Linked DNA regions of Homo sapiens: region 2 is linked to region 1. Evidence: fine-mapped expression QTL. A gene starts in region 1. The other region holds a variant in brackets. All regions are shown on one strand. Distances are between the middles of the regions. Region 1 holds the start of SFMBT1 (Scm like with four mbt domains 1). Region 2 overlaps SFMBT1 (Scm like with four mbt domains 1).

What was found.
Region 2: its variant is fine-mapped to the expression of SFMBT1 in whole blood (TOPMed, PIP above 0.99). The same link has a PIP of 0.9 or more in blood mononuclear cells.

Annotation. Positions count from the first base shown.
Region 1 is chr3:53,039,600-53,054,790 of GRCh38, forward strand. SFMBT1 (Scm like with four mbt domains 1) reads right to left here and starts at 6,474. Exons shown (of 21, transcript NM_016329.4): 1 at 6,217-6,474. RefSeq lists silencers at 5,513-5,802, 6,163-6,222, 6,323-6,642, 6,693-6,802 and enhancers at 6,790-7,291, 7,292-7,791.
Region 2 is chr3:52,977,148-52,992,338 of GRCh38, forward strand. The region is part of intron 1 of SFMBT1 (Scm like with four mbt domains 1); the gene reads right to left. Among named protein-coding and RNA genes, the nearest start is that of SFMBT1, 61 kb to the right of the region's middle. The variant C/T (reference allele first, on the strand shown) is at 6,518.

The sequences.
Region 1 (15,191 bases):
GGTTAAAATGGTACAATTCATGCTATATGTATATAACTTACCACAACCATACGTTTACAGAGTCTCTCTCTGTTGCCCAAGCTGGAGTGCAGTGATGTCATCTCAGCTCACTGCAACCCCCACCTCCTGGGTTCAAGCAATTCTCCTGCCTCAGCTTCCCAAGCAGCTGGGACTACAGGTGTCCGCCACCACACCTGGCTAATTTTGGTATACTTTTTTTTTATTTGATTTCATTTAAGTTCCAGGATACATGTGCAGGATGCGCAGGTTTGTTACATATAAACATTTTTAATAATAAAAATTTATATCCTCATTATATATCACTATGTTCTAGACAGGCAATATGCTAAGTGCATTGGTGTGATCACCATCTAACCACTCCAAGAGGGTTATTTTATGACGCAAGTCAAAATGAGACCAAAAGGTATCTTAAAGTTACAATTCAAAATTACCATATACTATTTTTAACACAGAAAAAGCATATTTTAGAAGAACCGATCCTTAAGAAAGAACACTAGAAAAAACTGAGAGACAGGAAAGCACTCTAGTCTGGGGAGCAAATTAATGTGAACAGAAATGAAGAACCAGTGGCAGCCCATGGGCAGCCTTACTACTGAGCAAATATTCCATAGTAGCCACCTCAAATGCTTTTTTAAAAACTCTTCAGGGTATAAAAAATAATAATTTGGAATTCAAATCTGAGTACTTGTTGGCTAACACTTTAAATTGAATATCAGCAAGAAAAACTCCTGAGGCATTTTAGTAATTGCTAAATTTCTCATCCCAGCTCATGTTGTCATTCCAAATGTGTGACTGTCCCACACTTTCAACTGCCAACAAACCACCTTCCAACTCTCATCTAAGATCCTCTCCAAATACCATCTCAGACAGAACCCAAGTTTCCCAGATAAACAGATACTGACACTTAACAACCCTATCTGCCCCACATCAGTTTAATAATTAACCTTTCTCTAGACTAAGCAAAAACATCAAAAAAGAACCAATGCACCAGACCAGTATGCCAGTTAAAAAAAAAAAAAAAGACCCAATGCACACAGTACTGTGCATCATGTTGGAAATATCACCTTATAGCCTCTCTCTGCATAGTGACATGCTTGGCTCACTGAAGTTACTCAACTGTTCAAACCACAGAGTTCAACAGGTACTTAACACATCATTTAACACACAATATACAGACTACTTTTTTTTTTGTTTTTATTTATTTTTTTGAGACAGGGTCTCGCTATGTCACCAGGCTGAAGGGGTGTGATCACAGCCCACTGCAACGTCTGTCTCCCTGGCTCAAGAGATATACCTGCCTCAGCCTCCCGAGTAGCTGAGACTACAGGCATGCACCAAGACACCTGAATTTTTTTTTTTTTTTTTTTTTTTTTTTTTTTTTTTGTAGAGACAGGGCTTCCCTATGTTGTCCAGGCTGGTATCAAACTCCTGGACTCCAGAGATCTGCCTGCCTTGGTCTCCCAAAATGCTGGGATTACAGGTGTAAGTCACTGCGCCCGGCCTATTTTTTGTTTTTAAATAAATTCCTTGAGTGACTGCCTGAAGACAAAAGAGAACTAAATAAGGTTATAAACATCCTCTTGAATAAAAGAAAGAATAATTACATACACGTTTTCAGGTGTCTCTGAGTTAGAGGAAAAGGTTTACAATCAAATCATTAAGACTTATGCAGTGAAGTCATATGATTTTTCTATTAATAATGTGTCAGTGTTCTTATCCTTCCTCCCCCTTTTGAAAAGTTTAAACATGAATCTGCAACAACCTGACCACATTCTTTCTATTTTAAATCATTTTCCGCGAGGCGCGGGGGCTCATGCCTGTAATCCCAGCACTTTGGGAGGCCAAGGAGGGTGGATCACCTGAGATCAGGAGTTCAAGACTAGCCTGACCAACATGGTGAAACCCCATCTTTACTAAAAATACCAAAATTAGCCAGGAATGGTGGTGCATGCCCATAATCCCAGCTACTTGGGAGGCTGAGGCAGGAGAATTGCTTGAACCCAGGAGGCAGAGGTTGCAGTGAGCCATGATCGTGCCATTGCACTCCAGCCTGGGCAACAAGAGTAAAAGTCTGTCTCAAAAAAAAAAAAAAAAAAAAAAAAAAAAAAAAATTCTTTTCCAATGAGGTTAGTATCCCCTGAAGAATGGGAGACTCCTATCAAAATCCCACTCCCCAAACTCTAATGGTTTAAAATCTCGCAAGTAACCAAAATCCCCACACACTTTTATCCCATTTAATAACTATGTATATACAGAAATATTATTTTCAAATACAAAATATCCCAGTTAGGTAACGAATGCTATATACTAAAAGAAAAATACTCTGCCATAAGGAAGTTGTATCATTTACTCATTACAAGTTCTTTTATTTTATGTTATTCCAAAATATTGGTTATAAGCCAAATAATCCAAGAAAGCAAAATTTTGGAAAATTATAAGAGAAAAAATGTAACATTAAAAATATTAAAGATGTAAAATGTCTGCCTAAATAATGGCCTTTTGGTTTTTGGACTGTATCTATTTACTTAATGTGAACATAACATGACGCCAAAATAAAAAGCCAATGAAGTTTGTATAGTTCATCTTTTCTACAGACTTTAGAGTTAAATGATACCTGCTGCTACACCACCATTCCACAGCTAAACCCAGTCTAGGTATCACTGTGAAAGCAAAAGTATACTACAGAAGCAGGAAGATTATGGATAGGCAAATCATACTGGGTTGGTTGGTTTGTTTTTTGAGACAGTGTCACTCTGTTACCCAGGCTGGAGTGCAGCAGTGCAATCATAGCTCACTGCAGCCTCGAACTCCTGGGCTCAAAGGATCCTCCCACCTCAGCCTCCTGAAGAGCTGGGACTATAGGTGCCCACCACCGCGCCTGGCTAATTTTTTTATTTTTTTGGAGACACAGGGTCTCCCTTTTCTTTCATCCAGGCTGGCCTCGAACTCCTGGTCTCAAGCGATCCTCTTGCCTAGCCTCCCAAAGTGCTGGGATTATAGGCGTGAGCCACTGTGCCTAGCCAGCAATCATTTTTAAAAGGAAAAATCTGAGTTTACAACAAAACAGCAAAAAAAGGAAATTCCCTTTCATTGTGTATTTTGTTTCTCGTGTATCTCTTTAGTTGCTTCTCTTAAAAATGTAATAGATTTTAAATTAAACAATCTGATCACATAAAAGTCAAGAAATTTAAAAAGAGCCACAAAAAGAAACAATGTATCAATAATAGCTAAGTCATCAATTACTCTCTTGGCTAATGAGGCTGTGAATCTTGGGTGGAGTGACCAAATCCAGCTTAGTTGCTGGTCAGTCAGTTGGCTGGCTAGCTTAACACGGGAAAGACAGAATTATTCAGCGAAATCATTTCACAAAAGAAAACCTTTTAACTTTGTGGACTATTCCCCATGGATCCCTACACCACAGGCCTTAGAACATTCCCAACTTTTATCACACAGATATCTTTGCAGTAAAAAACACAAGCCTTTGTTAGGAACTAACAAAATAAGAATTCACTTACAACATCTAACCCATCTCCTTTACAGTAGGAACAAGAAAAGGCACAAGACGACATTGGTGAAGGAAATGCAAATTGTTGCAGCATTTGCTTCAGTGGAGAATATTTAAAAGTCCACCTTCCTAGAAAGAGGGTTAATAAAAAAAAAAAGGTATCTTAGTCATGCTGATTTTTTTAATCACACCTGACATAATTTTTAGTTAACCTTTTGTTTTTGCTTTCATTGTTGCACTTTAAATGATTTGATAAACCAGCTGACTATCCTGTATATATAAGTCAACTGCTGTCATTGAAAAGGTTGTTAAAGCTTTACGCACACATTCTTAATTCACTTAACTTTAAGAAACCAATTTTCATTCAATTTTCTCAGCAAATTCTAGGCATTAAGAAACTGATTCATCTACTGACACCTTAAACTCTAACTTGTTAGGAAAATTCATGATTCATTCTTCAAATCTGTTGTCTACAAATATATAGTACCTATATTCTAAAAATGGGAAGTCATAGATTAATACCATTGTCTGTGAACATAAGGACTCCCAAGAACTACCAATCGTAACCTGCAAAGTATTGCCCCCACTGAAAAGTGACCTTCTAAGAAGTTCCTCAGGACAGAATTTTAAGTTATTCTGGATTACAAAAACCCTAAGAATCATTATAAAAGCAAAGGGTCATGGCCAACACGGCCATAACTCCAAGTTTACATACAAGCTATCCTCAGTTTGTTAGTATTGCCCCTTTAACCCTCAAAAGGGTCCTGTTTTGAGGCAAAACTCATCTGTGGTGACAGAAGTCAGAATTGTGGTTGCCTTGGGGAGGGGGAATGTGTTTACTGAATGGAAAGGATACAAGGCCTGAAAATGTTCCATATCTTGATCTGAGTGTGGTTATCAGGGCATATACATATATAAAAAGTCATTGAATTGTACCCTTAAGATCTTTCGGTAGGTTATACATACCTCCATAAAAATACATTGTTAAAAATCTATTCAAATAATCATATAAAACCATTCTGGATCTAGCTACCAAGATGTTTTTTCCAAATGAATTTTAATAAAGACACACATTGCGAGCACTTTTATGTAGTACCTCTCAAAATATACACTGTGATTTCTAAGAATCTTTCAGTTAAGAAAGCCACCGAATTTTCGAACTGAAAGCACCCCCAAACATCATCTGTTTATCTTAATGTTGCAAATAAGGAAAATCAAAGCTACAATGGGTAAGAAATGTGCCCAAGATAAGGCAGTTAGTCAATGACAACGGTAATAACAGAACTGTTTCCTGATCTCTGGCCGTTTCTACCAGGCCGTAACTTTTCTGACATCGCAAACAAATCTTAACTCCGAATCTACCTACGGCCTAATTCAACAAATGCCTCAAAACGCTAGTCAACAGGCCTCAAAGTGTACACATGAAGACACATCTTCCTTCATCCTCTCGCCAGTTGACAAATTAATGATTACACGTTCAGGCATTTTACCCAGATGCAATAAAATTAAGAATGACATCTTAGAAAATGTGGTTCAAGAGAAGACATACGCAGGGATTGACAAAATCCATCTTACTTCCTTTCGAATCTCTTTGATGGTTACTTGGTTCTCAAACACAGATCACTGCTAACAGGACTCAAAAACACCACTTGGGACCATCAACCAGTGCTGCTTCGGGCGACCCGCTGGGAACACCCCCACCTGACCCAAGCGTCCACCACTCCTTGAGCACAAGCTCTGGGGGTGACCTGTGCCTGCCGGCTTAGTTTTAGACCCTACGGGAACAGCTGACATCTTGTGAAAAACTTAGCATAACGTACATCCTTTCCGCGGGAATTTATTTCTGTTCGCACAAGGCGTTTCTGCTCCGCACAGAGCAGGCCTTGCTTCCCAGGACGCCGCTCGCCCCTCCACAGCCTCCTTTTCAGCGTCCAAAATCGGACTTTAGGAACAGAAATCGAAACGGTCGCGGACCTCCCGAGCGGCAGGTCGGGGCGCTGCCGGGTCGGCGCGGGGTCCAGCGGCGGTGCCCGGCGGGCCGCGGCGCGGGAGAGGCCCGCTCACTTCACAACGGCGGCCCGGAGCCACCGGTTGCGGCGGCCACTAGACGCTCCGCCACCGCGCAGCGACCGCCCGGGCCCTCCGAAGTTCCGACCGGCCGCGCGCCCGGCCCCAGCTGCGGGTTCGCGCCCCGCCCGGAGCGAGCCCGGGGGGCGGGTCCGCGGGGGCTCGGCGGGCGGAGCGCGGGGCGCGCGCGGGGAGGGGCGCGCGGCGGGCCCGGCGCGCCGGGGAACTTGGGCGCCCGCCACTGCCGCCGCCCGGCCACTTTCCTTTCACGCCTCCCGCGGGCTGACGCGCGCCGCGCTGCCTGCCAGGGGCTGACGGCCGCCGCCGCTCTCCGCCGCGGCGAGGCGCCCAGGCGCGCCCCTGCAGCCGGCCGGCCGGCGCGCGGGACCGCGGGGCCGCGCGCGGGCGCCGCGCTCCCCCCGCCCCGCCCCCGCCCCCAACGTGCCGCCGCCGCCGCCCGTTGGCGCCTCAGCCCGCGCGCCCGCCGGCGCCCGGCGGTTTCCCGTTGGCAAAGTTGCGCGGCCGCTTCGAAGGGGACGCCGTACGGTCCCCCGCCCCGGCGCCGCCGCCGCCCCTCCAGGCCGCCGCGCGGGAAGGCCCAGCCGGTGGCCCCGCTTTTTTACCTGCCCGGAGTTTTCGCGCGCGCGCTCGCTCGATCGCTCGCTTTTCCCCCTCTCGCGCTCGTTTTCTTTCTTTCTTTCCGTCTTTTCGCTCCCCCGCGCGGAAGCTTTTTCCTCCCGTGCTGCCCGCGCTCGCCCGCTCGCGCCCTCCTTCCTGCTGGGTTCGGCGGAGCGGGGCGGCCGGCAGCTCTCCCCGCCCCCCTCCACCCGCGCTCCGGCGGAGGCGGCGGCGGCGCTCCGCGCTCCGACTCATTCCAATATGGCACGGACGCAGGGCGCATGCGCCCGCGCCCCCCCACCCCCAGCTCCGCGGTCCTCCAGGCAGCCTGCGCCCCTCGCGCCGCGCCCGTGGAGCTCCCGGGCCCGGCTGCCCCGCTCCCGCCCCAGCGCCATCCCTCCTGGCTGGGGCCGCGCGGGAGGCAAGGACTCCGCGGGCTGGTGTGCCGGGGGTCCGGCGCCGCGGGCCACCCACGCCCCCAGCCAGCAACTCGGCGCGGACGGCCCCGAGGCCGTGGCGCAGGACACGCGGCGGCGCCTCGGGCCCCCGACGGCGCTGTGGCCCCGAGCGGAACGGCCCGGAAGAGGAGACGCGTCCCCGGGAACCCAGTGCCCGCCCTGGCCCAGCCCCGATCCAGCCTGCGCCTCACCTCGGGTTGTAGACAGAGCGGCGGGGATCCCAGAGGGGTTCGCGGGTCGGACCTGGAGTACCGGCCCGGCGAAGCGCGCCGCTGTCGCCCGCACGTGACTGGCTCGGACAAGATGGCATGAGCGGAGAAGCGGCCGGATCCCAGATGCGCGCGTGCCGCCGCCGCGGGCACTGCGCCCGTTTGCCTGCCCCTCGTCGGGGATCGGGCGCTCCCTCTGAGACCTGAAAGGGCACCCAAGTGCCCCCTGTCTGCGAAGTCCGGCGCGGGCCCTTCGGCGCCCCCGATGTCTCTAGGCTTCCGCAGGAGGCGCCCTGTAAATCTTGAGTCTTCCTGCAGCGAGGGGGCACAGGACAGCTGCGAATTGGGACGAACGAGCCCAGAGCCCCGGGAAGGATCAGAACCTCGAAGGCGGCTTCAAGTCGGCCCCGCAGCCCGAGGTGACCGTGGGCGGTTACGTTGCCCGAGCTCGCCCCCTCCTCCTGAGCGCAGGTGCCCGTGGGACATACACCCGCCCACCTGCTCCGGAAAGTTCCCTCCAGAAGGGAGTTCCCGCGCCACCGAGACCCGGGAGCTCCCGATCAGACTCCCAGGCCGTGAAAGGCGTTATCGGACAGGGCCCAGAGGCGCCCCCACAGCAAGAAGAAAGTCTGGGGTTCTCACCGTGTGCCAGGTGCGAGCTCAAGCCACCTCCCTCAACCGCTCTGAGAAATATCCCACTTCACAAACTTGCTCAAAGTCACGCTGCTGGCTGGATTTGAATCCAGATTTTTTTTAGCACCACTGAAAAAACAATATGACAACCGGAGAAAGAAAAATCTAAAAAGAATACAGTAATCCATATTGTTACAAAGAAATGCAACTTTTCACGACATGAAACATATATATACTGTGTATAGTTGCAACCACACTTTTTTTGTTACTACTTTCACTACCATTTTTATTTGTTCACGATTCATTTTTAAGGTGTGCAGGTGTCCTTAACTATTCACTCAGCCCCCTAATGTTTTTGGTTCTTTACGGTTGTTTGCTAACGTATCCTTGAATTCTGCACTTGGGACAAATACCTGGGAGTGGAAAGGCTCCCAGGTAGAAGGCTATGAATGGCCAAGTGGTCTTGGCTTACAGCGTCATATTTTTCCCAAGAGCTGCCCCAATTATTCTACCGCCTCCAAGGAACAAGTGTAAGGAGTTTAACACACTTATAAACATTGAGTGCCATTTCCCCCCTACTTTAATAGTCTATTGCTAGTTCAAGGTTACTTAGCATTTCTTAGGTGACACAACATTCAAAAATGAATGTTTTTCCATGCATTTACTATATGCATTCCCTCTCCTGTGAATAATCTATTCATATCCATCTTCTGGGGACTTGAACCTCTTCTAACTTTGAACAAGCATTTTTTTATGTTACAGATATTACTTCTTTGTCGTCATTGATGCAAATATTTTCTAGCCTGTTGTTCTTTCTTGTTTTATTCTAATGTTCAGTGTGTCATTCTAATGTTTTAATTGCTTCAGTGCTGACAAAGTGAGCTTTCTGCTGCCCATCTGATAGTCTTTTTTCTGCTAGTTTTGTACAATTTCATTTCATATTTCATTCTCTGATGACTATCCCGATTTTATTTTGGCTTATTTATTTGGAGTAAAATATGGACATAACTCACTACCACTGTCATCGGTTGTTATTAATTCTGCAGTTACCATTTATTAAATAATTATTGACCAGACGTGGTGACTTACACCTGTAGTCCTAGCATTTTGGGAGGTTGAGGCAGGAGGATCACTTCAGGCCAGGAGTTTTAGGCTGCAGTGAGCCGTGATTGTGCCAGTGCACTCCACCTGGGTGACAGAGCAAGACTCCATCTCAAAAAAAAAAAAAAAGGCCGGGCGCCATGGCTCACGCCTATAATCCCAGCACTTTGGGAGGCCGAGACGGGTAGATCACGAGGTCAGGAGATTGAGACCATCCTGGCTAACACAGTGAAACCCCGTCTCTACTAAAAATACAAAAAAATTAGCCAGGCATGGTGGCGGGCGCCTGTAGTCCCAGCTACTCCGGAGGCTGAGGCAGGAGAATGGCGTGAATCTGGGAGGCCGAGCTTGCAGTGAGCTGAGATCGCGCCACTGCACTCCAGCCTGGGCGACAAAGCGAGACTCCAACTCAAAAAAAAAAAAAATTCCTTTGTTTAGTAAAATCTACTTTTACGCTAGACTTTCTATTTTGATTAATATATTTCTGAATTCTCCATTTCCTTCCTTAGACCTCAGTTTGAGCAAATACCATATGAATCTAAATATTGGTTCTTTGGAATAGGTTCTAACATATGAAAAGGCTTGATTCCCTCTCATGCCCTTATGAGGTCTTCTTTTTTCAGATTATCAGTTGATATCCACACTGGTTTATGTGTCTCTACACATCCTAGGATAATCATATAAGGGTTAAGAGGACTGGCTTTGAGGACGGACCATCCAGGTTCAACAACCAGCCCTGTGACCTTGGCAACTTATCTATCCCCTCTGGGCCTTCAGGTCTTGGTCTGTAAAATTAGGATAAGAGTAACAGCTGCCTCTGGCCTGGCGCAGTGGCTCACGCCTGTAATCCCAGCACTTTGGGAGGCCGAGGTGGGCAGATTACGAGGTCAGGAGATCGAGCCCATCCTGGCTAACATGGTGAAACTCTGTCTCTACTAAAAATACAAAAAAATTAGCCAGGTGTAGTGGTGGGCGCTTGTAGTCCCAGCTACTCGGGAGGCTGAGGCAGGAGAATGGCGTGAACCCGGGAGACGGAGCTTGCAGTGAGCCAAGATCGTGCCACTGCACTCCAGCCTGGGTGACAGCAAGACTCCAACTCAAAAAAAAAAAAAAAAAAAAGATTAACAGCTGCCTCACAAGCTCAACGCCTAGGACATAGTAAAAGTTTTGTAAATGTTAGCTATTGTTAATGATTTTTTTGAGACAGAGTCTCGCTCTGTCACCCAGGCTGGAGTGCAGTGGTGCAATCTTGGCTCACTGCAACCTCTGCCTCCTGGGTGCAAGCGATTCTCCAGCCTCAGCCTCCTCAGTAGCTGGGATTACAGGCGCACGCTACCACACCCGGCTAATTTTTGTATTTTTAGTAGAGACGGGGTTTCACCATGTTGGTCAGTCTGGTCTCGAACTCCTGACCTTATGATCCACCCGCCTCAGCCTCCCAAAGTGCTGGGATTACAGGTGTGAGCCACCGCACCCAGCCTTTTTAAAATTTTTTTTGAGAGAGGGTCTCACTCGGTCACCCAGGCTGCAGTGCAATGGTGCTATCATGGCTCACTGCAGCCTCTACCTCCCAGGCTCAAGCAGTCCTCCCGCCTCAGCCCCGAGTAGCTGGGACTACAGGTGTGCACCACCATGCTCAGCTAATTTTTGTATCTTTTGTAGAGACAGGATTTTGCCATGTTGCCCAGGCTGGTCTTGAACTCCTGGGCTCAAGTGATCCACCCGCCTCAGCCTCCCAAAGCGCTGGCCACCACGTCCGGTCCTATCTTTCAATTTATTCAAATATTGTAAAACTCTCTTGCCTTTCTCCAGTGCTCACCTTCATGACCCCTAAGGAAGAAGAACAGAGAACTCAAGGAACAGTTTAAAACTGTCTGCACATCTGACTTGTGTCAGACACTGTGTAGATGTGGGTGTGGGTATGCACATGTGCAGTTGGACAGAATCTCCTTTAACTCTTGCAACATCCTTTAGGACAGGCCGTAACATTCCCTACGGACAAAGAGCAAACTGAGAGCTTCCAGGTCATCCTTAAAGAGAAGCAAAACTTAGCCACAAACCTGGCATGCCAGCTTCTCAACCACGCTACTGGGAAATTCGAGTTGGGGATTGTTGACCGAAGATGCAGCCCCAGAGGCGCACGGAACGAGGGGTAACTTATGGAAAACTGACTTCTGGTCATGACTCACCCCAGTTGAAAGCCTTTCAAGGTTCTCTATTGCACTTTGCAGAAGTCCAAAAGCCTCACTTTGGCCTATAAGGCACCAGGGCCAGGTGCGGTGGCTCAAGCCTGTAAGCCCAAAAGTTTGGGAGCCCAAGGTGGGCGGATCATGAGGTCAGGAGTTCGAGACTAGCCTGGTCAACATGGCAAAACCCCATCTCTACTAAAGATACAAAAAATTAGCCGGGTGTGGTAGCACACACCTGTAATCCCAGCTACTCGGGAGGCTGAGGCAGGAGAATCACTTGAACCTGGGAGGCAGAGGTTGCAGTGAGCTGAGATGGCGCCATTGCGCTCCAGGCTGGGCGACAGGGTGAGACCCCCGTCTCAAAAAAAAAAAAAAAAAGGACTGGCCCTGGCCTGGCGCAGTAGCTGATACCTGTAATCCCAACACTTTGGGAGGCTGAGGTGGGCAGATCACGAGATCAGGAGTTCAAGACCAGCCTGGCCAACATGGCAAAACCCCATCTCTACTAAAAATACAAAAAATTAGCTGGGCGTGGTGGTGCGCGCCTGTAACCCCAGCTACATGGGAGGCTGAGGCAGGAGAATTGCTTGAAGCCGGGGGGGGCGGAGGTTGCAATGAGCCAAGATCGTGCCATTGCACACCAGCCTGGGTGACAAGAGCGAAACTGTGTCTCAAAAAAAAAAAAAAGACTGGCCTGGCCCACCTTCACCTGTCCCATTCAGCTGTCCTACTCACCTGCCTTGCTTGCTGTATTTTAGCTGCACCTGTCTCCTTTCCATTTCATGGGTATGTCACTGTCCTTCCCACTGGCACACTCCCCATCCCACTTCCTGCACCCACCTTTACATAGGTGACACCTTATTGTTCCAGTATCTGCTTAACAAGATGGTCTCCTCAGAGAGGCTTTCCCTGCCCACCCCATCTGAACAGGTTCTCTCTCTCCCCAGTGGTGATATTTCTAATTTATACCTGCATTTGTTTGTCATTTATTTGGGTTCTGTCCCCCCTGTAATCCCACAGATGGACATCAGTCCCCTTGAGCACAAAGACATGCCTGTCTCCATAACCATGAGGTCAGCCCTTTCCCCAAGAGGCAGTGGGAAGACAAGAGGGTGGCTAGTGGGTCATTTGGCAGCATCCAAGACCAGAGGCTGGCACACCCAGGAGGCATCCTGGGCATTCCCAACTTAGTCTCCACTTCCTGCTGGCTTCATGGGTTAGGGGTTGTAACCCTCTGTCATCATTGACCAAGGGGTCAGTGTTCAACCATTCTATATGAACCCCCTATGCCCTGAGGCCTTGCCTGCCCATGAAGCAGGCCTGTTTTCTGCAGGTGGGCATCAACCTGGGGCCTTGTACTGGATGAGAACCTGAGGGCCAGGCCTGGACCCTGGGGACTGGCAGAACCCTTGGCCAGGACATCATGCTGTTTTCAACCCATGAAGAACTGAATGAAATTCCACAAGCCAGCCAGGCCTGCTGTCAGTGATCAGCGGCCCTCCATTGCCACTGACCTGACCAGCCAGCTTCCTTCAGTCAATCCAAATGAGGCCAGTCACATAATGACTCCCTGTGGCTAATTACCCAAGCAATCAGGTGATCCCCACTGTAGAGTCACTGCTCACCCCATGCCATTCTTCACTGAGGTCCAACTGACTATGCTGGCCCTGCTGCCTCGGGAGCACAGACCATGACTCCACATTCTCTGTAACACCTGCCCTGCTTCCCTCCATGTCTTGGCTCCTGCAAACCCTGCTCCACCAGGTGTCCTTCTCACCTACGCTGTGTTGTCAGGGAAAAAACAATGGGTGTGGAGGCAGACAGCTGGAGTCAAGTTCAGAGTTAGTCACTGCTTCTCTATGAGACCTTCTATGGGACCCTTCACCACTCTGGGCTCAGTTTCCTCATCTTTGTAAAATGGGGAGGAAATCAGCTTCTTTGCTGGGTCATAGGAATCCAAGAACAAAATGTGTATAAACATTCTTTGCAAACTGTAAAGCACAACAGAATGATGAGAAATAGTTGTCCTGACCTCAAAGCCATCTCCTCCAGGAGGCCTCCCAAGATTGCTCCCCTTCTTTCTCTGTCTTCCTAAAGCACTTAGCTTGCTTTTCCTCAGTTGCTTACCACAGAACAGGCACTGGCCCTCTTGACCCCGTTTTCTATCCTTGAGTGCCACAAGCCCAGGATTATGTCCCCATTCATCCCCAAAGACCGCTTCTCTTGGAGAAAATATATTAATGGGCACAGTGTTCCAATTTTATGTTATTGAGCCATGCATTTTTCTTAAATTATTTTGCACCTTCAACTTCTTATCCGCTAATAAGAGGTCACAGGCACCAAATAAGTGACCAAGGACGCTCAGCAATACCGGAAAAAAGAGGGAGCAGTTCTTTGGGTTGGAGGTTGGAGTGTCTTTTTTTTTTTTTTTTTTTTTTTTGAGACGGAGTCTCGCTCTGTCTCCCTCTGTGGATCACTTGAGCTCATGAGTTTGAAACCAGCCTGGGCGACATGGTGAAACCCCACCTCTACAAAGAATACAAAAATTAGCCAGGTGTGGTGGTGCACACCTGTAGTCCCAGCTACTTGGGAGGCTGAGGTAGGAGGATGGCTTGAACCTGGGAGGTGGAGGTTGCAGTGAGCTGAGATGATGCCACTGCACTCCAGCCTGGGCAATAGAGCCAGACCTTGTCTAAGAAAAAGAAAAAAAAATTGTATGAGGAATGTATACAGTGACTGGGACAGAGGACACAAACTGGTAGGCCCTGTGTCAAATGTGGCCCAGATGGCGCTTTGCTGTTGTTGTTGTTGTTTTATTTTGTTTTGTTGCTTTTTTTGTGAGACAGGCTCTTGCTCTGTCACCCAGGCTGGAGTGCAGTGGCACAATCATGGCTCACTGCAGCCTTGATCTCCCAGGCTCTAGTGATCCCTCCACCTCAGACTCCCAAGTAGCTGAGACTACAGGTACGTGCCACCATGCCTGGCTAATTTTCGTATTTTTTTAGAGATGGGGGTCTCACTATGTTGCCTAGGCTGGTCTCAAACTCCTAAGCTCAAGTGATCTGCCCCGCATTGGCCTCCCAAAGTGCTAGGATTACAGGCATGAGTGTGGCCAAGATTTTTTTACAATACTTTTTTTTTTTAGGTATAATTTGCATACAATAAAATATACCCATTTTGGGCTGTGTGCGGTGGTTCACGCCTATAATCCCAACACTTTGGGAGGCTGAGGTGGGCAGATCACATGAGGTTGGGAGTTTGAGACCAGCCTGGCCAACATTGTGAAACCTCATCTCTACTAAAAATACAAAAATTAGCCAGGTGTGGTGGTACACGCCTGTAATCCCAGCTACTCGGGAGGCTGAGCCATGAGAATCCCTTGAACCCAGGAGATGGAGGTTGCAGTGAGCCAAGATCACCCCACTGGCCTCCAGCCTGGGCGATAGAACAAGACTCTGTCTCAAAAAAAAAAAAAAAAAAAAAAAAAAAAAAATATATATATATATATATATATATACATATACCTATTATATAAGTGTAGAGTTCTCTGAGTGCTCACAGAGGTGCAGCCCATGTAACCACCACCACGAAGACACAGAGACTTCTTTTTTTTTTTTAAGGGAGTCTCTCTCTGTCACCCAGGTTGGAGTGCAGTGTTGTAATCTCGGCTCACTGCAACCTCCGCCTCCCAGGTTCAAGCAGTTCTTCTGCCTCAGCCTCCTGGGTAGCTGGGATCACAGGCACGTGCCACAATGCCCGGCTAATTTTTGTATTTTTAGTAGACGGGGTTTCACCATGTTGGCCAGGCTGGTCTCGAACTCCTGATCTCAAGTGATTTGCCAGCCTCGGCCTCCCAAAGTGCTAGGATTACAGGCGTGAGCCACCGCTCCTGGCCAACACAGAGCCTTCTAATGACTCCCCTCACCCATAGGCAAACACTGATCTGATTTCTAGTTTCAAGATTACTTTTGCCTGTTTTTATAAACTTCATCATAGGCCGGGCACAGTGGCTCATGCCTGTAAACCCAGCACTTTAGGAGGCCGAGGGGGGAGGATTGATTGAGGCCAGGAATTCGAGACCAGCCTGGGCAACATAGCAAGACCCCATCTCTACAGAAAATTTAAAAATTAGCCAGATGTGGTGGCCCAAGCCTGTAGTCCTAGCTACTCTGGAGGCTAAGCTGCGAGGATCACTTGAGCCTGGAGGTCAAGACTGCAGTGAGCTGTGATTGTGCCACAGCACTCTAGCCTGGGTGACAGAGTGAGACTTTGACTCAAAAAAAAAAAAAAAGAAAAAGAAAAAAAGAAAAAAAAAGAAAAGAATAAAGAAAGAAAAGACAAGAAAAGACAAGAAAAAAATTTCATCATAGAGCAATACTCTCTGTCTGTT
Region 2 (15,191 bases), 62 kb before region 1:
CAGAGAAACATCCCCATGTGTACAAAGTAGCAAGAACCAAAATGTTTGCTTGAGCAATGCCTGTATTAAGAAAAAACTGGAGGCTGGGAGCGGTGGCTAACGCATGTAATCCCAGCACTTTGGGAGGCTGAGGCAGGTGGATCACGAGGTCAGGAGTTCGAGACCAGCCTGAAAAACATGGTGAAACCCAGTTTCTACTAAAAATACAAAAAGATTAGCCAGGCCTAGTGGCGGGCGCCTGTAATCCCAGCTACTCGGGAGGCTGAGGCAGAAGAATCGCTTGAACCCAGGAGGCGGAGGTTGCAGTGAAGCGCACCACTGCACTTCAGCCCAGGCGACAGTGTGAGACTTCGTATCAAAAAAAAAGGAAAAAGAAAAAGAAAAGAAAAAACTGGAAACCTCAGGGTCAATCAATACATAATGGCACATCCACAAGATGAAAGTTAAAAAGAGTAAGACAGCTTAGTAAGCATAAAGTTCATGCTGGGGTGATGAAATAAGCTTTGGATTTGGATAGTGGTTTTATATAGATGTATACATATAACCTATATCTACATAAAACTGAACAAAAACAAAACTACGTATTTCTATAGGCACACATATATATGTGCAGATACCTTTAACGTGGTCAGGAAGAATACATCCAAATCATTAACAGGAAAGTGAGATTCAGGGGCAGGGCAAAAGGGAGTGTTTCTTTTAACAGTATTGGGTAAACTTTTTAAGATAAAAATGTACTCATATGTTTACTTCAGTGATTTAAAATTTTAAGACAAAAAATGCATTTATTGACATGGAAAGCTATTTATTCATTCTTTCAATAAATATTTACTGGAAACTTATTATGTGTCAGGCACAATAAAAAAAAATTAGAGATATATCAGTGAAGAAAACAGACCAAAATCTCTGCCCTCATGAAGCTTATATTTTAGTGTAAGGAAGAAAGTATAATACTTTTTCTAAATGTCATAAGTGATAGAGCTGGGGAGGAATGACAGTGTGGGGTGGTTAAATCGGGTAGAGAGAAAGGAGGTTTCACTGAGAAGGTAACATATGGACAAAGACTTGAGGGAGCTACAGAAGGAAAGAGCATGCCAGGCAGAGGGAAAAGCCAGCAGAAAGGGCCTAAAGGGAGAGCATGTGAGAGTGAGCTATGTTCTAGGAATAGCAGGGAGGCCAGGGTAGTTGGTGCCAAGTAAGCAAGCAAGAACAAGTAGAAGGAGAAGAGGCAGGAGAGAGGTCAACTTCACACTGCCTGCCACTCCCATGTACCTCTGTGAGTACCCCCCACCTACAGCCCTTAAGGAACTATACTTACCAGGTGACCCTACTCCTCTGGGGGTAACAAAACGTAAAGGCAATGTTGGTGGGAATGTAAAATGATGCAACCACCTGGGAAAACAGTCTGGCAGTTCCTCAGTGTTAAACATAGAGTTACCATATGGGCCAGTATTTCACTCCTCAATATATACCCAAGACATTTGAAAACATATGTCCAAACATAAACTTGTTCATGAATGTTCGTAGTATTATTTATAATAGTCAAAAAATAGAAACAAATCAAATGTATCAACCAATTAATGGTTAAGTAAAATGTAATATATCTAATATAATGGAATATTATTCAGCCATAAAAAGAAATGAAGTACGAATACATACTACAACAAGGATAACCTTGAAAATATTGTACATGAGAAGATAGACACTAAAGGCCACATATTATACGCTTCCATTTATATAAAATGACCACAGAGGCAAATTCACAGAGACAAGTGGGTAGATTGTGGTTGCCAAGGGCTGGTAGAGAAAAGGTAATGGATAACGACTACTAATATGTACAGGGTTGCTTTTGGGGGTATTAAAACATTCTAATATTAGACTGTGGTGAGAGTTGTACTATTCTGTGAATAAAAAAACTGTAAACTTTAAATAAGTGAGTTTTATGGTCTGTGAAATATATCTCAGTAAAACTATAAAAATGGTACTTATATTCAAGGACATAACTGTGCTTTTAAATAACATTTCAAATACAGAAGCCAATGACAAAAAAAAAAGAGACAAGATATCTGGGTTACCCTTAGGATATGCAACAGAAGGAGAAAGAAAATAATTTGGCTGTTACTGGTTTGTATCAGTTAAGGTAATGTTATGCTTTAACAGATAAATTTCTATTTTCAATTGCTTAATCCAACAGATATGTATTTCCCACTCAGATGAAGTCCAAACAGGTGTTCCTAATCAGTAGGCAACTCTCCACCATGTGATTATTCATGAAGCCAAAAGCCTTCCGCCACATAGCTCTACCACCTTCAACAAAGTCTTCACAAATCATTCACTGTAGGGGATCACACATGGGAGGTTTTCATGGGACAGACCTAAAAGTGGTACGTCCCTTCCACCCACATTCCACTAATTAAAATCCGGTCACAAGACCCCATCCAACTACAAAGGAAGCTGCAAACTACAGTATGGCACTTCCCACCATTAGTAACAGAGTGCTTAAATTAGTATTGCCATTCACCAGAACTTATATTAACAGTGAATAGCAGTTATTCTACTTAAAGGAGGCTTCATGAATCAATAGTAGTGATACTATGAACAGTCATGGAATTCTGTCAATAAATATTTACTGAGCACTTATTATCGCCACACCACATTTGTTCTAGGTGAAGAAATATTTTGAAACCTGCCCTCACGAATCTCATAATCTAAAGTGTGTAGATAGCCAGCAATAAAATAAATACAACTGAGCCTTGAACAACATGGGCATTAACTACATGGGTCCACTTACAGATTTTTAAAAATAACTATCTTGGAAAAATTTTTGGAGATTTATGACAATTTGAAAAAACTTGCAGACAAACCATGTAGCTTAAAAATATCAAAAAATTAAGAAAAAGGTGTGTTGTGAATGCATAAAATACATGTACCTATTAGTCTATCATTTACCACTTTTATATACAAATCTATTATTAAAAGTTAAAAAATATCAAAACTTATACAAACACAGACTGTACATGGTGTCATTCCCAGTCCTGAGAAATGTAAACAAACCTAAAGATGCAGTTTTACATCATAACTACACAAAATTAAGTGTAGTACATATTGCATCATTTGCAATATGAAATCATTTTGCAGCTATCTCCTGTTGCTATTGCCTTGAGCTCAAGTGTTGCGACTATCTCCGTAAAATGCTGTATGACACTAATCATCTCCACGTGGGCAATTCGTCTCTCCAGTAAAATGCATAAATAATATCACAATAAAAAGTGATCTCCCATGGTTCTTACACATTTTTCATGATGCTTAGTGCAGTACTGTATTTAATAACACCGTAAGACCCATAGAAAGTACCGCTAGAGATGCTGGACGTGCTTTCAAGAAGCAGAAAGAAGTGGTGACATTATAAGAAAAAGCTGGATTGCTTGATATGTACAATAGATTGAGGTCTACAGCTGCAGCTGCCTCCATTTCAAGATAAGTAAATCCAGCACAAGGACCATTGTTTAAAAAAAAAAAAAAAAAAGCAAAGGAAATTTGTGAAGCCATCACTGCAGCTACGCCAACAGGTGCAAAAACCTCGCATTTTGTGTGAATTATGTTTTTATCTCATGTTGAAAATGCAGCTTTTATGTGGGTGCACGACTGCTGTAGAAAGGCATACCTATAAACTTTCATATGATTTGAGAAAAAGCAAAGTCATTATATGACAAAGCAAAAGAAAGGTGAAGGAGTCCGGTCGCGGTAGCTCACGCCTGTAATCCCAGCACTTTGGGAGGCCGAGGCGGGTGGATCACCTGAGGTGGGGAGTTCGAGACCAGCTTGACCAACATGGAGAAACCCCATCTCTACTAAAAATACAAAATTAGCCGGGCGTGGTGGCACATGCCTGTAATCCCAGCTACTCGTGAGGCTGAGGCAAGAGAATCACTTGAACCTGGGAGGCAGAGATTGCAGTGAGCCAAGATCATGCCACTGCACTCTAGCATGGGCAACAAGAGCGAAATTCCATCTCAGAAAAAAAAAAAAAAAAGGTGAAGGATCTAAAGCTGGAGGATTTAATGCCAGCAAAGGATGGTTTGATAATTTTAGAAAGTGGTTTGGCTTTAAAACTTTAGGAGGAGAAGCAGCTTCTGCTGACCAATAGGCAGCAAATGAGTTCCCCAATGCCAGTTAAGAAAATCATTAAGGAGAAAGGATTTCCACCTGAATAGGTTTCTGTGGAATTTTTTTGAGACAGGGTCTTGTTCTGTCACCCAGGCTGGAGTGCAATGGCATGAGCTCGGATCACTGCAACCTCCACTTCCTAGGCTCAAGCAATCCTCTCACCTCAACCTCCCTAGTAGCTAAGACTACAGGCATATGCCACCATGCTCAGCTAATTTTTTTTTTTTTTTTTTTTTTACTTTTCTGCAGAGACGAGGTCTCACTACATTGAGCAGACTAGTCTGAAACTCCTGGGCTCAAGCAATCCTCCCACCTTGGCCTCCCAAAATGCTGGGATTTCAAGAATGAGCCACTGCACCCAACCTGAACAGGTTTTTAATGCTGATGAAAGTGCTCTATTTTGGGGGAAAATGTGCTACAAAGGACATTAATTAGTAAGGAGAAGAAAGTACCCGGATTTAAGGGAGGAAAGGATAGGCTAACTTGACTATTTTGAGCAAGTGCAGTTAGGTTTATAATCAGGACAGCCCGCTAACCCCCACGCCTCGAAGGGAAAAGATAAAAGCCAGCTGCTAGTTTTTTGGTTGTACATTAAGGCCTGGACAAAAAGAACCCTTTTTCTGAACTGGTTCCATCAATGATTTGTCCCTGAAGTCAGGAAGTACCTTGCCAGTAAGGGTCTGCTTTTTCAAGTTCTTTTGATATTTGACAATGCCCCCAAGCCACCCATGAGTTCAACTCACCCCATGAGTTCAACACCAAAACTGGTGAAGGGCGTCTACTTGCTCCCAAACACAATGTCTCTAATTCAGTCCCTAGATCAGGAGCTCATAAGGGCCTTTAAGGCTCATTACACACATTCCTTTATGGAAAGGACTGTCAACACTATGCAAGAGAACCCTGATAGAACATCATGAAAGTCTGGAAGGATTACACTATTGAAGATTCCATTGTTATAGAAAAAGTCCTGAAAGCCATCAAGCCTGAAACAATAGACTCCTGCTAGAGAAAATTGTCCAGATGTCCTGCATAACTTCACAGGATTGACAACAGAGCCAATCACAAAAATCATGAAAGAGGTTGTAGATACGGCCAAAAAGGTCGGAGGTGAAGGGTTAAGATATAGATCATGGGCCGGACGCGGTGGCTCACGCCTGTAATGCCAGCACTTTGGGAGGCTGAGGCGGGCGGATCACTTGAGGTCAGGAGTTCCAGACAGGCCTGGCCAACAAGGTGAAACGTCGTCTCTATTAAAAATACAAAAATTAGCCGGACATGGTGGCATATGCCTGTAATCCCAGCTACTCAGGAGGCTAAGGCAGGAGAATCGCTTGAACCCAGGAGGCGGAGGTTGAAGTAAGCTGAGATCGCGGCACTGCACTCCAGCCTGGGCGACAGAGCAAGACTCCCATCTCAAAAAAAAAAAAAAAAAAAAAAAAGATATAGATCGTGGAGAAATTCAAGAGCTAATAGATAGCACACCAGAGGAATTAACAGAAGACGACTTGATGGAGATGAATAATTCCAAAACCAGTGCCAATAAAGAAGAAGATGTAGAAGAAGCAGTGCCAGAAAATAAATCAACATTGACAATCTGGCAGAAGGGTTTGGATTACTCAGGACTGCTTTTATGACAAGATCCCTCTATGATATGGCACTGAAACTAAAGCAAACAGTGGAAGAGGAGTTGATACCATATAGAAACAGTTTTAGAGGAAGGAAAAAGCAAACATTCAGACAGAAACTATAATGTTATTTCTGAAAAGTTACACCACGTGTACCTGCCCCTCTTGCCTTCCTTTCTGCCTCCTCCCCTCTTCCACCTGTGGCACCCTAAGACAGCAACACCAACCTCTCCTCTTACTCCTCCTCAGCCTACCCAACGTGAAGATGACAAGGATGAAGACCTTTATGATGATCCACTTCCACTCAGTGAAGAGTCAATATTAATATATTTTCTCTTCCTTATGATTTTCTTTGTAACATTTTTTCTCCAGCTTACTCTATTGTAAGAAAACAGTATGTAATATATAACATATAAAATACGTGTTGATTGACTGCTTATGTTATTGTGGTAAGGCTTCTGGTCAACAGTAGGCTATTAGTAAAGTTTTTGAGAAGTCAAAAGTTATATGCAAATCTTCAACTGCGTGTGGGGTCAACACCCCTGTGTTGTTCAAGGGTCAACTATAATATGTATGTTGAATGAAAACAAATGTTAGGAGAAAAAAACTGAACAAGGGAGGAGGACAGGGAGTCCTACTTTTAACAGAGTGATCAAAGCCTTAGTGTTGAGGTAACACAAAACAACACCAGAGGGAAATGAGGAAGTGAGCCATGTGGGTACGTG[C/T]GGAAGAATATTCAAGGCAGAAAAACAAAAAGAGCAAAGTCTCTGAAGTGGGAGCTTGTGTGGCGTATTTGAGGCCACAGTGGTTGGAACAAAATGATCACAGCAGAGATGCTAGGAGATGAACTCAGGAAGCTATCAGGGAGTCATATTTTATATGAACTTGCAGGCTGCTGTGAAGATTTTGGCTTTGGGGAAGCCATTGAAGGATTCTGAGCAGAGGAGGAACATAATTTGATTTATCTTTTAAAAGGATCACTCTGCAGCTATGTGAGAAGAAAGCAAGAGCAGAAGCAGGAAGACCAACTAAAAAGACCACAGAATAATCCAAGTGAAAGGTGTTGGTGGCTAGGTCTAGGACAGGAGAAGTGAAAATGTGGAGGAAGATGTAAGATGGATTTGGTGTATGAGAGAAAGAGCAGTATCTGGGCTGACTGAAGTTTCTGGCTTAAGCAACTGGAAGGATAGAACTGCCACTTATGGAAAAAGGGAAGTCTGAAGTAGGAATGGTTTGAGGAAGAAAAATTATGATGAGCTTCAGTGCAAAATAGGGCAATATGATTACTTCCCTCACCACTAAAGGTTTGTTCTTGGAGTTTTCAGGAAAATGTTTTCAATCAACAAAAGTATAATTACTATCTGTGTAGTGTCTCCAATTTATAAGCTTTTTTTCACCCACGATGCTTCATTTGAACATCATAAAAAACTTTTTTAGACAGCAAGAATGGGGCCAATTCTTTTTTTTTTTGCCCCTTGGGAACCTCCTTGTTGGCTTCAATCCCATCTTACATTTCACGTTCTCTAGGTTTACCAATCAGCCTTGAAGGCATTTCCCCATAGCAATTCAGTAATTTATGCTGCCTTGTTTTTTAACATTCCAATTTCAACACCCACATACTTTCCAATACAGGCACTTCAATGACAAATTTTCTAGCTTTCTTTAATGTATGTCTTTCAATAATCTCAGGCATAAATAATCTTTAAAAATTCATACTATAATGAATACTATATTGAATATAGGTAATATATATTATTATAATATATACTGAATACTATACTAAATACTGTGTGTGTGTGTGTGTGTGTGTGTGTGTGTGTGTGTGTGTGTCTATTCATACTATAATGATTCATACTATAATGAGTTTGGAAATATCAGGCTGACCACCCTATAAATCCCTGGTCCACAGTTGGCTAAGTATGACCACTTCGCAGCCCGGCTTCCTTAGCAATTACTGATTAGTACCAGGATATTGAGCACCTCCTCTTTGCCAGATACCAAGACGACTAAATTGCAGTTTTGAAATTATCTTTCACTGTACCAGAATATGTCAAAAGCATTTAAAATCATTCTTTATCCTTATATTATCTTATAGGCTGGAACGGTAGCTCTTCCAGAGTTCAAATATGATTACATTTTCATCAATTAAATGCTTTATTTATGGGAGCCAGTAACATGAGCACATGTTGAAACAGTATGTCTTTGTTCTGATTAAATCAGGAGCTATTTGATTCACCAACACAAGCACTGTCAAAACATACCAATTCCAATAGTATTATAAAAAGATTATAGGAAAAGACCATGTTCAGTTATGAAAAGACTTGAAATTATTCTGTAATTTCATGGTTGCTGTTTCTCAGCTTTCTCATGTCAAGTCACAGATCAGAAACTTCATCTCAACAGAACAAATGCTTGTTAACCATTTATCAAGAAAAAAGAAAAGATTATTTGAGTACCTACTATGTATGTGCCTGGCACTTTTTATGTATTGTATACTAAATAATTAGGCACACAGAACACTGTCCAACACATGGTAAGCTTAATATTTAAGTGTTTATTATTTTTTAATAATCTTTTATTTAATCCTATTCTGCTTAACTCATACAATGATAATTCCATTTTACAGATGAGGAAAAGTTAACATGTCAGTTCATACACAGTCATGCATCGCTTAATAATGAGGATATGTTCTGAGAAATTTGTTGTTTGGCAATTTTGTCATTATTCGAACATCATAGGGTATACTTACGCAAACCTAGATGGTGCGGCCTACTATACACCTAGGCTATACGGTGTAGCCTATTGCCCCTAGGCTACAAACCTGTAGGCAACTGTAACACAATGGTAAGTATTTGTGTATCTAAACATATTTAAACATAGGAAAGGTGTAGTCAAAATATATCATAAAAGATAAAAAATGAGGCCAGGCGAGGTGGCTCACGCCTGTAATCCCAGCACTTTGGGAGGCCAAGGTGGGCAGATCATTTGAGGTGAAGAGTTTGAGACCAGCCTGGCCAACATGGTGAAACCCCGTCTCTACTAAAAATACAAAAATTAGCTCGGTGTGGTAGTGGGCGCCTGTAGTCCCAGCTACTCAGGAGGCTGAGGCAGGAGAATTGCTTGAACCTGGGAGGTGGAGGTTGCAGTGAGCTGAGATCATGCCACTACACTTCAGCCTGGGAGACAGAGTGAGACTCCGTCTCAGGAAAAAAAAAAAAAAAAAGATAAAAAATGGAACACTTATATAGGGCACTTATCATGAATGGAGCTTGCAGGACTGGGAAGTTGTTCTGGGTGAGTCAGTCAGTGGTGAGTGAATGTGAAGGCCTGGGATATTACTGTATACTACTGTAGACTTTCTAAACACTGCACATGTAAGCCACATTAAATTTGTTTTAAGAATACTTTTCTTCCTTCCATAATAAATTAACCTTAGCTTACTGTAACTTTATAAACTTTTTGATTTTTAAAATTTTTTTGACTTTCTTGTAATAACACATAGCTTAAAATACAAACACTGTATAGCTGTACAAAAATATTTTTTTGGTCGGGCGCCATGGCTCACGTCTGTAATCCAATACTTTGGGAAGCCGAGGTGGGCAGGTGACCTGAGATCAGGAGTTTGAGACCAGCCTGGCCAACATGGCAAAATCCCATCTCTACTAAAAATACAAAAAAAAAACTTAGTCGGGCAGGCATGGTGGCAGGTGCCTGTAGTCCCAGCTACTCGGGAGGTTGAGGCAGGGAAATCGCTTTAACCTGGGAGGTGGAGGTTGCAGTGAACCGAGATCGCGCCACTGCACTTTAGCCTGGTGACAGAGCAAGACTCTGTCTCAAAAAAAAAAAAAAAATTAGCAGGGTGTGGTGGCGAGTGCCTGTAATACCAGCTACTCAGGAGGCTGAGGCAGGAGAATCGCTTGAACCCGGGAGGTGGAGGTTGCAGTGAGCCGAGATCGTGCCACTGCTCTCCAGTCTGGGCGAAAGAGTGAGACTCCATCTCAAAATATATATATTTTTTCTTTATATCCTTATTCTATAACTTTTTTCTATTAACTTTTTATTTACTTGTTAAAACTTTTTGTTAAAAACTAACACAACAGCCTAGGACTACACACGACCAGGATCATCAATATCGTTGTCTTCCACCTCCACATCCTGTCCCACTGGAAGATCTTCGGGAGCAATAACATGCATGGAGCTGCCATCTCCTTGATAACAGTGCCTCCTTCTGGAATACCTCCTGAAGGACCTGTCTGAGGCTGGCTTACAGTTAATTTTTTTTTAATAAATAAAAGGCATATACTCTAAAATAATGATTTAAAAGTACAGTAAATAAACCACAGTTATATATTATGATCAAGTATTATGTACTGTACATAACTGTATGTGTTATGCTTTTATACAACTGCCAGTGCAGGTTTATTTACACCAGTACCACAACAAACACGAGTAGGTATCTCACTATGACTTTAGGATGGCTACTACATCATCATTAGGCCATAGGAATTTTTCATCTCCATTATAACTGTATGGGACCACCGTCATATATACAGGCCACCATTGACTGAAACACCATCATGCCATGCATGACTGTAGATAGGAAGCAGCAGGGGCAGCATTTGAACCCTCATCTGATCCCAAGCCTGAGCTCCTTAGTGTTTCTGGGCTCTGGGGCTTTTCTTGGAGCTCAGAGAATACAAGGATAATTGTGAGGTATGTCTTATACCATAGAGTGATGGCCCTAGATGATCTGCGCTCAAGTTGTTTTATTCATTCATTCATTTAACTTCTAAGTTCCATACTGTTCTGCTTAGAATGGTGAGTAACCAAGAGTCTGGATGGCACCTAGACAGATGCTGCCATCTATAAGCTTCTAAAATCTTATTCTAGTAGGGCCCTAAAACAGATTAATTCATATGAAAGGATACAGTACACATTTTTAAATTAAAACACATTTCCTTATTAATTCTTTAATGGAATGGAATAACACTGAATTAAGAATGGAATAACACTGAATTTAGCCAAAAGGCTAAAAAAATCAGTGTAATAAACAGCCATCATCAAAAATGTCAGAATCATCAGGAAAGCATAAAAAACAAAGTCTTTCCCCAACGGAGTAACAGGCTCTGCCTCAACCCAGAAGAGAGCTGAGGGGAAGTTATAGTGGTTGACTTAGAGAGACCCTTGGGAGGTCCAATCACTCACCAAACTTTAACTCGTGATTATAAGAGAGGATGCTCTGGGGATTTTGCTGCTTTGTATTGTTACATTAAACATACAAGCATTTTTAAAAGCTCTATGTTAGAATTTAAAGATGCCTAGACTATAGACACATATGCTGTACAATTAATTCACTGGAATTTTTTTTAAGTTTAAGGCCCTATAAGAACTAGATTATCAGTTATAAATATTGAGAACTTTTGGATAGGCTACCACCCCTCAAAAATCACGACAGGCAACCATACAGGTCAGTCCCTCAAGAACACCTCAAGAACCTGTCCCTCAAGAACGCCTCCCAACTCCAGGGTAATGCTGCTGCGAGGGTATCCTCGGGGAAACACAATGGTGAATGTCTGCTGCAAAACACTGAGCCAATACCTAAGAGGCATGCTGAACATTTAACAACAATGATACTAGGAACAAGTATTAGTTATTTAGAAAAAGTATAAATTATTTAGAACACAAAACAACTCTTCAGGAGCTTTTAAAGTAAGTGCTTCCAAAAAAGGAGTAAATCTCTGGTTACTACTAGAGATGTACTACGTAACACATTAAATCTGTAAAATAATTTGGCACAAAAAGTTAAATGGACATGAGGAAAAAAACCAGCCTAGGTTATGATAATTAATTAGGAATCTAAACAGACTTATATGCAAGATGTAAAACCAAAACCCTAACTGGCAGAATAGCAGTCTACTTACTTACCTGTTATTTCCAAAGCGCAGCAGGACACTTGGCAGCCTTCTGTTTGGTTAGTATTAGACCCTAGTCACACCTTAATAGTTGTTTTTATAGATTTCAGTACCCCCACACCTTTCAATCTAACATATGTAAACATTCTCTGAAAACCAAAAGTATCTAATGTTAAATATATAGAAATTTTTGGTTAAATCTCTACACCTGTTAAACAGAAAGATTCCTCTTCCTGATTTCTTTTCTCCACTTTTCTATTCTTTCCTTAAAAATAATTTGGTTTCTTTCCTACCACTAAATTATTATTTTGTGAACTTAAATGCAATATTACAAAGGTGGCCAGTTTTCTAAGATTAGGACTTACCAATTCCACTTTACAGTGCTTAGTACAAAATTATTGGTATAATTTTCAATCCTTAATAATACTATGCTACTAATGGTCATGTTTTCATGTGTTATAAGAAACATGCCTTTTGGGAGGCTGAGGCAGGAGAATGGTGTGTGAACCCGGGAGCCAGAGCTTGCAGTGAGCTCAGATTGTGCCACTGCACTCCAGCCTGACTCCATCTCAAAAAAAAAAAAAAAAGAAAGAAAGAAAGAAAGAAAGAAACATGCCTTCCATAAAACTATTCCTACTAATGTTCATGTTTTATAAGAAAAAAATAAGGCCAGGTGTGGTGGCTCACACCTGTAATACCAACACTTTGGGAGGCTGAAGTGGGCAGATCACGAGGTCAGGAGATAGAGAACAGCCTGGCTAACACGGCGAAATGCTGTCTCTACTAAAAATACAAAAATTAGCTGGGCATGGTGGCGCGCGCCTGTAGTCCCAGCTACTTGGGAGGCTGGGAGAATTGCTTGAACCTGGGAGACAGAGGGTGCAGTAAGCCAAGGTCACGCCACTGCACTCCAGCCTAGTGACAGAGCTAGACTCCATCTCAAAAAAAAAAAGAAAAAGAAAAAAATAGTGTTTACATAATGTATAACTTCTTTCAGCCTTGGACAAAACTATCATTGAAACAGACGTCTGAAGTCATCCAAACAGGCCGACAAGAATTTAAAACTTCATTATTTGCAAATTAACAACGAAAAAGGTAGGCTTAAGGCAGACAATTGGTTACTAATGTCTCCTTCAAAGGGAAAAAATTTCCAGCACCATCTACTAAAACTGTTCGGATATATTCCAAAGGCTAGTTGTCTTTTAGGATTTTTCTTGGGAGGGGTTGTTCATTTTAATTGTTGCATTTAAAATGTTCAAAAAATAAATGGGCTTAGTTGGTCAAAACACAACCACTCACTCAGGAAAAACATCATCATAAAGGTAAAAATAACTCAAAGCATACACCCGAAGTCATTAAAAGGTTTTTCCTCAGTTTTCTCTTATAGGATGTGAGATAAATGCAGTATTATTCTCTATTAAAGTATAAAAGACAACTCGACTCAGTTGTCTAACTCACATTAAATTCCTCCAAAATGGTATTTTGAAGAGTATCACAGGCTCAGCCACATCAAGTTTGGAATTTTGTGACACAGAGTCAGATGACAGAACACTCAGTCCTTCCTCACTTGGAAACAAAAACCAAATGCTTGAAGAGACTTAATGTCAAATCTAACTATGCAAAGTCTTAAGTTTACTTCAATTTCATCTCAAAGCAATCTTTAAAGAAAAAAAATCAATAAGCCATTCAAACACCAGAATACTACTTTTCTCGGAATCTTTAACAAAACGTCAAACAAATTCAGACTGTTGGACTGTTAAACTTCAAAGAGCCACCTTAATATTTTGAAAACATCAAGAAAAAGTTGAGCAAGAAAGAGAGGAAAGGGAGGGAGAGAAGAAGGAAAGAAGGATGGATGGAAAGAAGGAAGGAAGGAAAAGTTTTCTCAACTTTAACAAATACTATTATCAAAGCTAAGGAGTTTTGGCCTTGGGAATTCAGATATTACGCATAAAACAAGGAAATAAACCTAATGAACAAACATTACTACTATGGGGTGATGTCAACCTTGCAATTTTGGAGAGAGATTAATGAAGTGGGGTGAAGTATAAAGAGAATAATTTTTTCACTTCAAATGATGAGTAATGAAGTTCAACATATAAACATTTTTTGTTTGCTCATTTTTTCCCAAATAACTACTTTACACCCACATTACTGTCTCATTTGCAAACGTCTGCATAGTATCTTCAGCAACTATACCTAGCACTGCATTTTTACATACATTAAGCCAGCTGCCTGGATGATTTTTTAAAATTGCTCTTTGTTTCACTGAATAACTGAGGCTGGTGACTCTAAAAGTTAGAGAAAACTTTAATAAGTAACACCCAGTCCAACAGTCCTCAACAGTTCTGTTGTACACACCATTCCCATGTGCCAACATTTCCTCAAATAACAGCTCTCCATTACCCTACAGTGCTTTTCTAGAGAATTCTTCCCTACCTGCTGTGGTTTGAATGTTGTGTCCCACCCAAAATTCACATGCTGAAACTTCTTTTTTTTTTTTTTTTTTTGAGATGGAGTTTTGCTCTTATTGCATAGGCTGCAGTGCAGTGGCACAATCTCAGCTCACTGCAACCTCCACCTCTTGGGTTCAAGCAATTATCGTGCCTCAGCCTCCCGAGTAGCTGGGGCTACAGGGAGGCGCCACCATGCCTGGCTAATTTTTGTATCTTTAGTAGAGACGGGTTTCACCATGTTGGCCAGGATGGTCTCGAACTACTGACCTCAGGTGATCCGCCCACCTCGGCCTCCCAAAGTGCTGTGATTACAGGCGTGAGCCACCTCGCCCAGCCTGCACGTTGAAAGTTAATCCCTAATATGAGAGTATTAAGACGTGTGGCCTTTCAGGAAGCGATTGGATCAATGCCATTATAAGAAGCTTCTGAGAGCTGCCTGCCCCTTCTTGCTTTCACATTCCCTTCCACCTTCTACCACATGAGGATGCACCATCAATGAGGAATGGCACCTCCCCAGACACTAAATCTGCCAGCACCTTGATTTTGGACTTCTCAGACTCCAGAATAGTGAGAAAATAAGTTTCTATTATTCATAAGTTACTGAGTCTCAGGTGTTCTGTCATAGCAGCACAAATGACTAAAACATCATCCATCCCCGAGGAGGAGATTGTCCATTTCTGTGTTCCAACACCATCAATGACACAGGGATAAAAAACTCCCACGACTACCTTCTAGGATAATCTATTCCACTTCTAAGCAGCTCCGCCACAAAGCCTGTCCTTAACCTGCTGCAAAGTCCCTATGGCTTCTGCCCATTGCTGTTGCCCACTCAGAATGAGTCTGTGTTCATTCACTCACACAGAGCCCTTCACATAGCTGAGAGAACTAACGTTCATCAACTGTTCTTCCTAAGCAGGTCCTGAGCTGCCTCACCTTCCTAGTCCCTCCTCTAAAATACATTCCAGTTTATCTGTAGCCCAAAACAGAATACAAAAGAATAAAGTATTGTTTATAATACAAAGGGTAAGTGT